4 linked regions of the Homo sapiens genome follow. The protein of the gene in region 2 interacts with the protein of the main gene of each other region in a biochemical or structural test. Each region holds a gene or a part of one and is shown on either strand. Other genes may lie near its edges.

Region 1 (3,500 bases), on a different chromosome or scaffold from region 2:
CTACTCTCTGTCCACAGTCTCCCATCCTCCCAGTTTGCCTACTCTGTCTTTTCACTTCAAAGAGACCTCAAGTCCCTCAATGTCTCCATTTCCTCCCAGACTTTTAGCCCTTACCTATCTGATCTGGTCTTCAAGTGCAATCACCTGAACTACTTCATCCTCAACTTCTTCTCACGTCTGGCAAAACCACAATCCTGAATCTATCCAAAACCTGAATTTTCCATCCCCACATCTGGACTGTCAAAGCTGCTAGAGAGAAAAAAAAAAGCCACATTCTTCTGTGCATCACTGCCATTATAAATTTACAGCTGCTAATTTACCCAAGACTTCAGGACTGCTAGGCCATCCTTTTACTTTCCTTTGTCTTCCTCTTTCTTTCCCCTTAGCAAATCTTCCATACATTGAACTCTCCCCACACACCCTGCCAACTTCTCCTCCCTCACTCAAAGCATCTGATCTCACCTCCCATTTCAATGAGAAAACTGCATTTTTAGATGGGAAATACTTCAGCTTCCAGCCCTCTTCAATAACAAACTACTAACACCTCCATTCAACTCACCTTTTTTCCTCCAGTCTCTGAGGATAAGGCATCCTTATTCCAGACTAAGATCAACCTCCACCTCACCCCAACCTTTGCTCTGGACCTCATCTCTCCTCATCTCTTCAGGCACCCTGATCTACCCACAAGCCCCCTCTTTCCCTTGTCTACAGCCTCTTCCCTCCTCCCCGGGTCCTCCCCCAATCTAATCAAGGTGCTCAAGATGCAGCCTCATCTCTTCACAGCCACATTTCATTAAAGAGGCTTGGGATATTAGGCCAGAAACTCAGACAAGGGTGAAGCCTTGTTTTAAAAGCTAGGGCACAGGTGCAGAAGAAGCTGCAATTCAGAAACTAACAGAACAAGAATGTCCCATTGCAAAAGCCTCAACAGTAGGAATTTGGAATGATGGAACCTGAGGCAGGCCTCCTGAGTGCTTCTTATTTCAGGCCTTGGTTGCCCTGGAAACTGGGGCTGGACAGAGTCCTTGGAGTAGATAGGTGGAGCCACTTGTGAGGAAACAAGGGCAGGCAGAGGCTGATCCTGTCCACTCTTGGTTTCAACTACTATTGCTGGCTGAAGGCTCTCACATCTATATTTTCAGCCCTGACTTCTCCTTCAAGATTCATGCTGGAGTTATACAATTTCCTGCTGCTTTCCCAGTAGGGACTTCAAAGTTAACAAGCACAAAACTGAACTTTTAAAAACCTTAAACCTGCTCCTGTATGCACTATCTCAATTAGTGACACTACTGTTCAACCAGGCATTGGAATATGGAGACTCAATACCCTTGATTTCTTCTCCCTGCCTTCCCTGACACATCCAATGAATGCCTTAAATTTGTTATTTTTTATCTATCTCTAGAATCACTATCTAATTTAAGATCCTTGCATCTATTCACCTGAACTGATGATATCTTTTAATTAGTCTTATTCTGAAACACATGGTGGTGTGCTTGGAGCTGGCTTGCACCAGCTGGCGAGAGCGGGTTATCTGCTCCTCTTCCCAACTCCATGTTCCAGGATGTCATATTGGTAGCATGAAACTGGCCACAGTGGGAGTATTTACACCACAAAAACTGGCAAACACACAAAACAGGATATTTTTTCCTCCCCTGTGGAGAGCTGGTTGTTAAACATTTATGAGCATGATTACCACTGCCCATTTCCCACACTGTGGCCAAGCTAATCAACTATGCCACTCTCCTGATTAAAACCCTCAGTGGTTCCCCGTGGTCAACAGATAACATATAAATTCCTTAGCATGGCATATGAGGCCTTTTATCATTTGGCCCTTGCCTAAATATCCAATTTCTTCTCCCATCTCTTTTTAGTCTCACAACTTATGTGCTAGCACGAAGGTCACAAACTGGTTCACTGGAGCCAAATTTGTTTCACATATGTATTTTGCTTGGCCTGCACACTGTCTTTAAAATTTTTGAGCCAACGTTTATAACTTTAAGAGCTTCTACCCCCAAATCCATGTTTCCGGCTTCTTTTCAAAAATTTATAACACTGCTCCTCACTTGTGTTTATGACAATTTACAGGAGCTGAGTAGTAGCTGCCCCCTTTGAGAGGGTCTCTGCAGTTTACCAGTTTCTATCATTCACTCGCCCAAATTATGCGTATACACCTACACCTGGTCCTGATTTCTGTTACCTGTTTGGCCTGCATTTTAGATAGATTATTATCAGAATCTTCTAACCCTCATTATAGAACTTTCTCTTCCTTTACTTTGGCTGTCCTGATGATAGTCCGTGGTCTCTGCACAGCCTGGGAAGGAATAAAAACAGCAAGATGATGAAGGAGGACAAAGCAGAAGGGGTAGAAGGAATAAAAAGAAACCCGTAGTCTATGGATCAGTCCCCACTTTGAAGCAATAGAATTGTGAAAAATACAGGCAGAAATGTCCCAAGTTTGTGAGACCTCGTAGTAGTTCCCTGCAGAGCTAATCATCTAACCCTTCTTGGAGTCTTGGGATGTCTGCCTTCTCAGCTGGACATGGGAAGGAGAGGTCCAAGGAAATTAGCTCATATTGACCCAAATTGTGGGAGTCAGGTTTATAAACAATAGAGTCAATTTCTCTTTTCTTTTCTTTACTTTTTTATTGGAGACAGGGTATCACTCTGTTGCCCAGGCTGGATGGAGTGCAGTGGCATGATCACAGCTCACTGCAGCCTCGACCTCCCAGGCTCAAGCAATCCTCCCATCTTAACCTCCCTACTAGCTGGGACTACAGGTGCTTGCCATCACACCTAGCTAATATAATGTTTTTGTTTGTTTGTTTGTTTGTTTTTTAGAGACAGAGTCTCACTATGTTGCCCAGGCTGGTCTTGAACTCCTGGGCTCAGATGATCCTCTCACCTCAGCCTCCCAAAGTGTTGGGATTACAGGCATGAGCCACCACGCCTGGCCCAAGAGAGTCAATTCCTTAATGTGAAAACAGGAAATTTAATTTATTTTTGCTGAGTGCCTGCTGTGTGTCTAGCACTGTGCTAGATGCCATAGGGGAAACAAGAGCAGACCAGGACAACTCTGCCTTCAAAGAGCTCATAACCTTATCAAGGAGGCAAAAAGTACGTGTGTGAAGTAATTTGAGAATAATGTAAGACAGCATCAGAAAAGTGATTTTCTTGCATGTAACCTTGTGCCCACAGTATTTGAGCGGGCAGCAAGAGATAAGCTCAAAGTTAAGAGGAGGAGCTATTGAAGAAGCCAGAACTTGCAATGGCCCCTGAGTGGCAGAGAAATGGGGCGAGAGACCATTCCACACAGGGGATCCACAAGGATATACACACAGAAAGCAACCTGTGAGTGACAACACTGATAGGAGGAGAAAAAGCAGTCTGGGCGGGAGGGCAAGGTTGGTCACTGTAGACCAGTTTTCTTTTTAAAAGGTTTCCTCTCTGGTGTTAGGTACTCAGGAAGCCGAATGGAGAATAATAAAGTTCCTTGTTAGACA
Region 2 (3,500 bases):
CTGTAGTCCCAGCTACTCGGGAGGCTGAGGCAGGAGAATGGTGTGAACCCGGGAGGCGGAGCTTGCAGTAAGCCGAGATCGCGCCACTGCACTCCAGCCTGGGTGACAGAGACAGACTCCATCTCAAAAGAAAAAAAAGAAAGAAAAGAAAAAGTAAAAAGTTAGCCAGATATGGTGGTGCACGCTTGTATTCCCAGCTACCAGATACTTGGGAGGCCGAGGTAGGAGGATCTCTTGTGCCCGGGAAATCAAGGCTGCAGTAAGCCATGATCACACCACTGAGCTCCAGCCTGGGTGACAGATCAAGACCCTGTCTCCATAAATAAATAAATAAAAGACAATCCTCCTTTGATCCTGAAAGCTGCTCATTCTCCTCCCTTCTGTAGTCTGGAGCCGTCTACACGTGCTGTTTCTGTACCACTGCCCTTTGCCACTGCAGTTCACTATTGCACTTGAGGCTCTCCACGACCCAGCTCTGGCGAAGAACCCCAGACAGTGACTCTCAGACCTCGATCTTCAGCCGAGAGCTCGCTCTTGAACTCTGGAACTGTATATCCACCCGCTTTCTAGATGATTCCAAAAGGGGAGGAGAAGTAGCGGGAAGCTTCGAGGGTTTCCAGTCAGAGGCCACGTTCTGTACACGTCTGAATCCTAGCACAGATGCACCATGAGTCTGTGTAACCGTCTGTCTCCCCCACCCAGGTGTGATGATCCGGGGTCTCATGCTTGTCCAGCCCCAAGCACAGCGCCTGGCACATATTAGGCACTCAGAGAATGTGGATGGGACTGAATCAAAAAGCAGCCTTGCATTGCACTTCCTGCAGGCCCCAGCTCACCACTGTTTCCCTCCCTGTGAGTGGGCCAGGCTGGCAGCACCAGCCGCCCCCTCCCCACGCACGCGCCGTGCTGGGGAAGGTTGCCAGTTTGGAAATCAAAGTCAGCAGCAACCTCAATTCAAAGGAGAACATGGCTGGCTGCAGAGATGTTTTATGTAAGAAAGAGGAAAAAATAGTTCCTCCCTCCTGGGGCCCGTGCTACAGTGCGGTTTCGGTGTCAGTTATTACCCAGATGTTCTCAGCCTACATCTAAGCATGAGGTATCATCACGGGACACTAATGGATTTTCTATTAAATATCAGCCACTTCAAGGAGGAAAAACTGGGGCAGGCAGAAAGCGCAGGCGAGAACTGGAGGGCTGGTGATTGAAAACCAACCAGTCTGGCGCAGTGGCTCATGCCTGTAATCCCAGCACTTTGGAAGGCAGAGGCAGGTGGATCACCTGAGGTCAGGAGTTTGCGACTAGCTTGACCAACATGGTGAAACCCCATCTCTACTTGAACTCCTGACCTCAGGTGACCTGCCTGCCTCGGCCTCCCAAAGTGCTGGGATTACAGGTGTGAGCCACCGTGCCCAGCCAAGCCACCAAGCCTGGCCTGTCTCTACTAAAAAAAATACAAAATTAGCCGGGCGTGGTGGTACATGCCTGTAATCCCAGCTTCTTGGGAGGCTGAGGCAGGAGAATTGCTTGAACCCAGGAGGCGGAGGTTGCAGTGAGCCAAGATCACGCCATTGCACTCCAGCCTGGGCAACAAGAGCGAAACTCTGTCTCAAAAAAAAAAAAAAAAAGATAGAAAACCAACTGGGCTCCACGGAGGCCCTTCATCTTCCAGAGGAAGTCATTTTTGGAGATTCACTCTCAGCTTTTGTGGGTGCCCAGCGAGCCCTAACCAAAATCCTCCACTTCCCCGTTCCTCCTTGCCAGAAAACACACTGCAGCTGGCCTGGGCAGCCTGTCGGATTCTACCCTCAGCGGGTTGCTGCCCAGCCCTGCTCCTGGGCAGGTCTTCTCTTGCATCCTGCCCTGTTTGGAGCTCTGAACGTGCCCCCTTCCAACTCTGCAGGGATTAGATGGAGTCTGGGATAGACCTTTGGCTCCATGGCAGGTGATCTGGGATTGTAGCAGGCATTACTCGCACTCACCAATATTTCTAGGTCTTCCCTCTTTCCTGGACACACATTAGACTACATTTCCCAGCATCCTTAGGGAGGAGCAGTGTACCTAGTTCTGCCCAATGAGCATTGAGGACAGGTGCTGTTCTAAGAGGAGATGCACAATTTTCCAAGCTCTCTTCCTCTTCCATAGGGAACCCTGAAGCTTCACATAGAGATGGAGGAGTCTGAAATGCTGAGACCTCGTATGGACATCAAGCCACCCTAGAAAGTCTACTGACCCCCTAGAGGACTCTGTGGGTGAAAAGTAAACTTCTGTAGTGCAAACGCACTAAGTTGTTGATTTTGGGTCAGGCACAGTGGCTCACACCTATAATCCCAGCACTTTGGGAGGCTGAGGCAGGAGAATTGCTTGAGGCCAGGAGTTTGAGACTAGCCTGGGCAACATAGCAAGACCTCATCTCCCCAGTCTTTTTTTTTTTTCTTAATCAGCCAGGTGTGGTGGTGCACACCTGTGGTCCCAGCTACTAGAGAGGCTGAGGCAGGAGGATCACTTGAGCCCAGGAGTTGGAGGCTGTAGTGAGCTATGATTGTACCACTGCACTCCAATCTGGGCAACAGAGCTAGACCCTGTCTCAAAAACAACAACAATAAAAAATGTTGGGTTTGTTTGTTATAGCAGCAGAGCCTGTTGTGGGTACAGGAAGAAAGTCACAGCTTTGGAAGATCTGGACTTTGGTGATGTAGGGAAGCTGGAGTTGAGTCCTGTGTGTATGCGAGTGTGTGTATCTGGCCACAGAGGCTGGTCTACTCAGGGTCAGAAAAGCCCATTCAGGGGATCAGGCTAGGGTACATGATGGAGGAGACACTCCTGAGGGGGTTAATTTGGAAGGGGTTAGGACTGGACCAAGCTTGGGCACTGAAGGAGGCCAGAGTGGGTGGGGACCTGATGCCTGGGCAGTGGGCTGGGAGGCATTTCTGCAATAGTCAAACTCCGACAAAGTTTCCAGGCTCCCTGACCTCCCAAACCCCATGGCCAAGTGCTGCTGGGGCAGAACTGAGCAGATTCCCTTCCACGGAGGAAAAGTCTGTGAGCTTGATAACACAACAGGGTGACTATAGCCAATAATAACTTAATTGTCCATTTTAAAATAACTTAGGCCAGGTGCAGTAGCTCACACCTGTAATTCCAGCACTTTTGGAAGGCCGAGGTAGGCAGATCTCCTGAGGTCAGGAGTTCAAGACCAGCCTGGACAACATAGTGAAACCGTGTCTCTACTATAAATACAAAAATTAGCCAGGCATGGTGGTGGGGGCCTGTAATCCCAGCTCCTTGGGAGGCTGAGCCAGGAGAATTGCTTAAACCCGGGAGGCGGAGGTTGCAGTGAGCCGAGATCGTACCACTGTATTCCCTGGGCAACAGAGCGAGACTCTGGCTCCAAAAAAAATAAATACAAACTTAAACGGTGTAGATGGATTGTTTATAACTCAAAAGATAAATGCTTGAGGGGATGGGTACCCCATTCTCCATGACATGCTTATTTCACATTG
Region 3 (3,500 bases), on a different chromosome or scaffold from region 2:
CCCTCTGTCCTTTGGGCAGCATGTCAGAGCCTCAAGGCAACCCCAGTTCCTGGGACAGTGTGTTTGGAGGCAGATGGCCAGGCCCCGCAGTCAGGACTCTGCAGGTGGCCAGTGTTTCAGCATGAGGGGAGGAGCCAAGCCGAGAGTGGCTGGGTGGGCAGTGGGTGGAGAGGCTCATACCCTGATGTGGCTCCCATGCTGGTCATCAGCCACCTGCCTGGCCAGGTAGCTGCAGGCTGGATCAGGTGTCACAGGGGAGCGCCTGCCTCCTCCTCACCCTGATCTGTGTGTGCAGCTCAGGCCTCTGCCCAGTGCCACACCAGAGCCAGTGCCCATGGCTGCCTCCCTGGGCCTCACCTCATGCACTTTCACTCCAGGACCTGCAATTGTCCTTTCCTTCCATTTCTTTCCTGATTTCTCTTCACTATACATCAATCCATCATCTATTATCTATCAATCAATCATCTATCTATCTATCATCTATCACTGTCATCTATCAATCCATCACCAATCTATCATCTATCTGTCATCTCTATAATCTATCAACTGTCTATCATCTATGAATATATGAAGTACATGTGTGTGTATGTATCTATCTCCATCCATCCTATTGTATATCCATCCTATCTACCTACCTATCATCCATCCATCCACCCATCCATCATCCATCCATCCACCCATCCATCATCGATCCATCCATCCATGCTATCCAGCTACCTATCATTCATCCATCCACCCATCTGTCCATCATCCACCAATCCACCCATCATCCATCCATCCATCCATCCACCCACCCATCCATCATCCATCCATCCATCCATGCTGTCCAGCTACCTACCTATCATTCATCCATCCACCCAAACATCCATCATCCAGCAATCCACCCATCATCCATCCACCCACCCGTCATCCATCCATTATCCATCCATCCATCCATCCTATCTAGCTACCTACCTATCATTCATCCACCCATTCACCCATCCATCATCCATTCATCATCCATCCATCCATCCATCCATGCTATCCAGCTACCTACCTATCATTCATCCATCCACCCAGCCATCCATCATCCAGCAATCCACCCATCATCCATCCACCCATCCATCCCATCCATCATCCATCCATTATCCATCTGTCCATCCTATCTAGCTACCTATCATTCATCCACCCATTCACCCATGCATCATCCATTCATCCATCCATCCATCCATCCATCATCCATCCATCCATACTATCCAGCTACCTACCTATCATCCATTCCTCCATCCACCCATCCATTATCCATACATCCAGCCAGCCAGCCTTCCATCCACCCATCCTATCTATCCATTCTATCTACCCACCTATCATCCATCCATCCTATCCACCTACTTACCTAGCATTCATCCATCCATCCATCCATCCATCCATCCATCCATCCATCCATCCAATCTATTCACTGTCTCCACCTAATTTCTGACATCTCATCTTTGTAATTTGTTCTCCAGTGAGCATCTTTTCACATGCACTGGTGTTTGTTTTGCCTCCTCCTGGGGCTGCCTATTCTTCCTAGCTGGAGCACTAGGCTCTACGTTGTCCTTGTGGTATTTTTCTTTGATTCTGTAACATGCCATGGTCCTGCAAACACACCCCTTGGCTTCATTTTGGCCTTTCTGGGGTCCAGACGCCCTGCTGACTTCATGGTTTGTCTGGCTCCAGCTCTGCACTTGTGGGCCCCCGGCCACAGCTGATTTTGCTGCCCTGGTTGTCCTCCTCTCTCTTCCTTGGCTCCCGTGGGCCACACGCCTGCTGCACCCATGGCTCCTGTCTCCACAGGGCTTCCCCTTCAGTGCTGCAGGCACACTTCCACCCCCACCCCCACCCAACTGCTTTGCAGCCTCATAGGTGCCATGTCCAGGTGCCCTCTCTCACTGCACCTGTCAGCTGCTGCCTCCCTGGGGCTTCCTGGGAGGCTTGCAGCCATGCCCGCCCATCCCTTCTCCCCTTCCTTCCCACTTCTGCCTTGGGTTTACACTTGCCTCATGACCCCCAGACCTGGCTCCACCGGCCCACCCACACAGGGCAGCACCTCTCAACGGCCTCCTGCCTCATACCCCAGCTGAGATGGCCCTTCCCCTCTTGCTGCATTGTCCTCCCACAGCAACATGGATGCCCCTGGGCGGCTTTGGGGCCTGCCACCTCCCCCACTTAGTCCACCTGATTTCCAACGATGCCCCAAGGGAGCTGCCATTTTTGTCATGCCAGCCTTCCGCCAACAGCTGCTTCTGTTTCTGGGCCTGTTTGCCAGGAAGGGTGCAGCCCTTTCTCCTCCCTTTCTGGACAAGGGTCCCATCCCCCATGGCCCAGCTGAGTCTCCTCTCTCCGGGAGGCTTTCTCCAAATATTTTAACCCTGAATTATGTCTTCTTTTGCTGACCAAAGCTGCAGCCTGAGTCTAGATGGAGTTTCTGATGTAATTTGATTTAGATGACTCGTGCTGTATCACAGGTACTTGGGATTTGGCTTCCCGAGGAAAGAACCCTGGTGTCTGCAACTCTGACACCTCTCAGCCCTGGCAGGCAATGCATATGGAAACCTGGGAATGCCAGAGCCCCTGTGGACTGTGAAGCAGTGAGCAGACTGTACTCACAGACGCCTCGCAGAGCCGGTAGAAGTCAACGCTCAGGTATGCTCTGATGCCGTCTATGGCTCCAGGGAGGGTGACCCCACGCAGGAGCAGGGCAGTGAGGACCACGTATGGCATGGTGGCTGTGATCCATACCACCTGCAGGAGAGGACAGTGTCACCAGGCTGCACAGGCAGGGCCCTTGGTGGGAGCAGACACTGGCACAAGGGCACCGGGTTGCCCTGACGGCTTGTCCTCTGATTGGGAGGCCCAATTCCCAAACATTTCCTGGGACGCCAGCTCAGCAAATGCTCCTTGGAGTGAGAAGGTCAGACACTTTCTGTCCTGCACACCCTCCCCAGGGATGGAAAGGGAAGAACAACTTGGCAGGGAAAGCACATTCCTTTTCTGCATTCGGTCCGCCAGAGTAGCTGGGAGTGGCTGATGGGGGTTTTCTGATGCGTGGGACGTGAGTGGATTCACACTGGTGAACGGCACTGTGGCACGATGAAGGGCTGCTCTGGGCTGTGTCCCTGCGGGAGGCTCCCGTGGCTGGTGCCATACTACACGCACTTTTCCAAGGGAGGAGTCGTATCTTGGTCAAAACTGGTTTTGGCCCATATAACAACCAAAGTTTTTTTTTTTTTTTTGAGATGGAGTTTTGCTCTTTTTGCCCAGGCTGGAGTGCAGTGGCATGATCTTGGCTCACTGCAACCTCCGCCTCCTGGGTTCAAGCAATTCTCCTGCCTCAGCCTCCCACGTAGCTGGGATTATAGGCACGTGCCACCGTGCCTGGCTAATTTCGTATTTTTAGTAGAGATGGGGTTTCATCATGTTGGCCAGGCTGTTCTTGAACCCCTGACCTCAGGTGATCTGCCCGTCTCAGCCTCCCAAAG
Region 4 (3,500 bases), on a different chromosome or scaffold from region 2:
GTATTTCCTGTATTTCCTGCACTGGAATGAAGATACCTCCACATCTATATACCATGCCTTCAGCAGCCTCTGTTATTTTACTCCCATCCTGGGAGCAGCCATTGCTGACTCGTGGTTGGGAAAATTCAAGTAAGGAAGATGGGAGGTCACATCCCTACAAGTTTCACAGGTTGTGCAGAAGGCTATCACTTCTAGCCTCTTGCTTCTGAGTAAGAACATACCTATGTCATGCGTGAAAAATAAGAATCTCTGTACATCTGTGTAGTGTGGGAAATTTAAAAAAAAAGAATCTCTGTGGTAACAAGGAAAGGCTATTCTTTTCATTATCAATTTTTCCAATGTGTTTACATCCTCTTCAGTTGCGGTATCTTTTGTTCCTTAAAACTAATTTTAACCTTCCATTCCATAGTTTAATATTAAATCTTGCTCTGATCTTGTTGGAGATAGACAGCACTATCCACCAGCAAATTTCTAATTTTAGCCAGGTGCGGTGGCTCACGCCTGTAATCCCAGCACTTTGGGAGGCCGAGGCGGGCAGATTGCCTGAGGTGAGGAGTTTGAGACTAGCCTGGCTAACATGGTGAAACCCCGTCTCTACTAAAAATACAAAAATTGGCCAGGCATGGTGGCGGGCACCTGTAATCCCAGCTACTTGGGAGGCTGAGGCAGGAGAGTTGCTTGAATATGGGAGGCAGAGGTTGCAGTGAGCCAAGATCATGCCACTGCACTCCAGCCTGGGCAACAGAAAAAGACTCTGTCTCAAAAAAAAAAAAAAATTGAAATTTTGATGCTTTTATGTAGTTATTTGATACTTTCTCCATCTCTTCTCCAGATTGAGTTATCCCACCTCCTTTAGGATCTTCTTATGAGTGTCTCTTTTCAGCTCTTTTACCATCTATTTCTCTTCTCTAATGTCTTTTGTAGTTTCCTTCTTATGAATCTAATATTTTCATGAGTTAGACTATTGGTTCATTCAGTTCAGTATCTTTTAAGTCCCTGAACACAGCACCAAGAGATATAACATGGTATAATGTTATAATTGTCCCCTATAACATTAAACTGATAAGCTTAGAAATGGATCGTGGTTATCCCCTGCCCAATTATTTTCTATGGACCTGTCATCCATAGATTTGTCTAAATGAGCATTTCTCAAAGGGCATTCTGTTCAAAACTATAAAATATAATAAGTTATGTGGGAAAATAAAGCTCTTGTGGTCAAACAAGTTTGGAAACTGTTAGGCTGAGCAAAGCTAAAAATGTTCCCTTACTGCATGACTTCTTATAGCCTTAAATACGCTAATATGAACTATAAAATCTCCATAGAAGGTTGTAGTATGTAGTGTTTCCCAAACCAGTTTGACTATGGAATATTTTTTCTGGATATTTTGTGGACCCAGTGTTCCAAGGAATTCTCTTTAGTAAACAATGGTTTATAGCTTACTTTGGCCGATATATGTTCATTATTCTATAAGTGTTTAATCAGCACCTAATATATATCTATAGACATAACACAGTACTGAACAGTTTCTTGACTTGGGAGAGGAATGGTGGGTGAGTAGCTGAGATCTACATTTGCTACATATGTAGTAGTAGTCACCAAGTTTATCTAGATAGGAGATTGGCACTACTTGCAGAATAAAAAGTGCAAGCCATAATCTATTTATTCAGTTGTAGAATAAAGATTCATATACATGACATACCACTTTTATTTATTTTAAAAATAACTTCCTTTAAGATTGAAGAAGTACAGTTACAGGATTTGGTGAGCAATTGTTTCCTGGTTAATTCAGAGAAAATTTAACAACCTCTACTTGTGCTCTCAAATCAATCCTTCTTGATGTATTTATTATTGTTTTTAATTTATTTTTATTGGGATATAACTTACATAAAGTACACAAATTCAAAAGCCTTAACTGTACACCTTGATCAGTTTTTATGTATGTATCACCATCACCTAGATCACTCTCCCTAGGGTCTCTGTACCCTCACTATTCCCCTCTCTTGCCTTCAAATTCTCCCAGAGAACCAGAGTCTTTTCCTTCAACTAGAAGCAGGAGCAAATCTTTAATAGCTTTAAATGAACAAAACTCATCTTGACTCTCTTTTCCTATCATTTTTCTCCTTTTACATTAACCCCATATTATAAAAATAATCCTCTGTATGTGTTGCCTTTCTCACTCTTCATTATCAGTTCTTATGGTAGAGTAATATAATATAATGCAATATAATCCAATTCAATTTAATTTGATTTGACCCAATTTAATTCAATAAATGTTTATTGAGCACCTTCTGTTTGTCCAAGGAACCATGGAGGATGAAGAGGTGAATTACACATACTACCTAATTCATATTGTTCATATTCAAATAGCTTTAATACAGATCATATTGTAGTACAATAAGATATACTGTAAATCATCTTTTTTCCTTCTGAAATTACTCCCTAAGATCACTGGTAAGAATTTCTTCATTAGCAAATTCCAGTGGTCTTTTCTAAATTCTTACTCATTTTGAACTTGTTGTTAACATTTCAGTCTGTTTATCATTTCTGTGAAACTCCCTGGCCTTCTCTACAGTATATTTTTCTCACTCTCGTCCTCTTATATCTTTTCTTACTTATCTGGCTTCTCTTTTGCCTCTTGTTTACTTCACTCTTTCCTGAGTGTAAGCATTTTCCCAGGTTATAACTTTTACCCTCTTCTCTTTCTCTAGATTCTTCCTTAGCAAATTCTGTGGTGTGGATATTAGCTATATGCAGATGGCTCCTCAAATTCCAGTGAATTACATATTGGCATTCACCTCCACAAATCTGTTCTTTCTTCTGTCTTCTCTACATTCCCACCTTCAATCAGTTATCAAATTCTACCAATTCTGCTTGCCACAATCTCTCTCACATTTATCCCTTTTCAGCACAACATCCACTGCATTAGTTGCCATCACCCAGTTTTGGTCTTCATTGTCTCAATGTCTTTAAATTGAGATATTAAAATGGACATCTAAAATGTTTTTACTGCTTCCCATCTCTTTTTCCTACAATTGAGCATATATGCTACTGCCAAATTAATTTTCCTAAAAGAAATCCTGATCACATTACTACTCTGCTCAGCAATTTCTGGTGACTATTAAATCACTGTCTACTAATCTCACTCCAACTGACTTTTCTGTGCTTACTGTCATACTTATCTCCTTTCGAGAATGGCCACTAGAGGAAAATGTAATACTAATATTTCTGTAATCATATCCAATGACATCTCTTTTTCATGTCTGTTTGCATTGTTTCTGCTTCATGGAAACCCCTTCTTCCCCACCCTTTCATGTCCAAACCCCGTAAGGCTCACTCAAATACCACCTATGCTATGGAGTATTCTCTGCCCCCTCACCTTTTACTATAGCTGGAAGTAATATAGTGTTTTCTGAGTTCTTTGTTTTCTCACCCTTATATGACATTTACTAAACTCTATCTTATTATAGTTATTTAATTATTTATATATGAATCTGATATC

Evidence for each region. The genes of interacting proteins can lie anywhere in the genome.
Region 1: the proteins of GRID2IP (region 2) and TRPC5 interact in a test that uses a peptide from one of them, tested with the Homo sapiens proteins (one large-scale study listed by IntAct).
Region 3: the proteins of GRID2IP (region 2) and SLC6A3 interact in a test that uses a peptide from one of them, tested with the Homo sapiens proteins (one large-scale study listed by IntAct).
Region 4: the proteins of GRID2IP (region 2) and SLC15A2 interact in a test that uses a peptide from one of them, tested with the Homo sapiens proteins (one large-scale study listed by IntAct).

The regions. Positions count from the first base shown.
Region 1 is NC_000023.11:111,915,277-111,918,776, reverse strand, and holds part of TRPC5 (short transient receptor potential channel 5), read left to right. Parts: intron 1-3,500. UniProt on the Homo sapiens protein: Forms a receptor-activated non-selective calcium permeant cation channel. Mediates calcium-dependent phosphatidylserine externalization and apoptosis in neurons via its association with PLSCR1.
Region 2 is NC_000007.14:6,544,962-6,548,461, forward strand, and holds part of GRID2IP (delphilin), read right to left. Parts: intron 1-3,500.
Region 3 is NC_000005.10:1,417,941-1,421,440, forward strand, and holds part of SLC6A3 (sodium-dependent dopamine transporter), read right to left. Parts: intron 2,764-3,500; coding exon 2,629-2,763; intron 1-2,628. UniProt on the Homo sapiens protein: Mediates sodium- and chloride-dependent transport of dopamine. Also mediates sodium- and chloride-dependent transport of norepinephrine (also known as noradrenaline). Regulator of light-dependent retinal hyaloid vessel regression, downstream of OPN5 signaling.
Region 4 is NC_000003.12:121,897,401-121,900,900, forward strand, and holds part of SLC15A2 (solute carrier family 15 member 2), read left to right. Parts: coding exon 1-129; intron 130-3,500. UniProt on the Homo sapiens protein: Proton-coupled amino-acid transporter that transports oligopeptides of 2 to 4 amino acids with a preference for dipeptides. Transports neutral and anionic dipeptides with a proton to peptide stoichiometry of 2:1 or 3:1.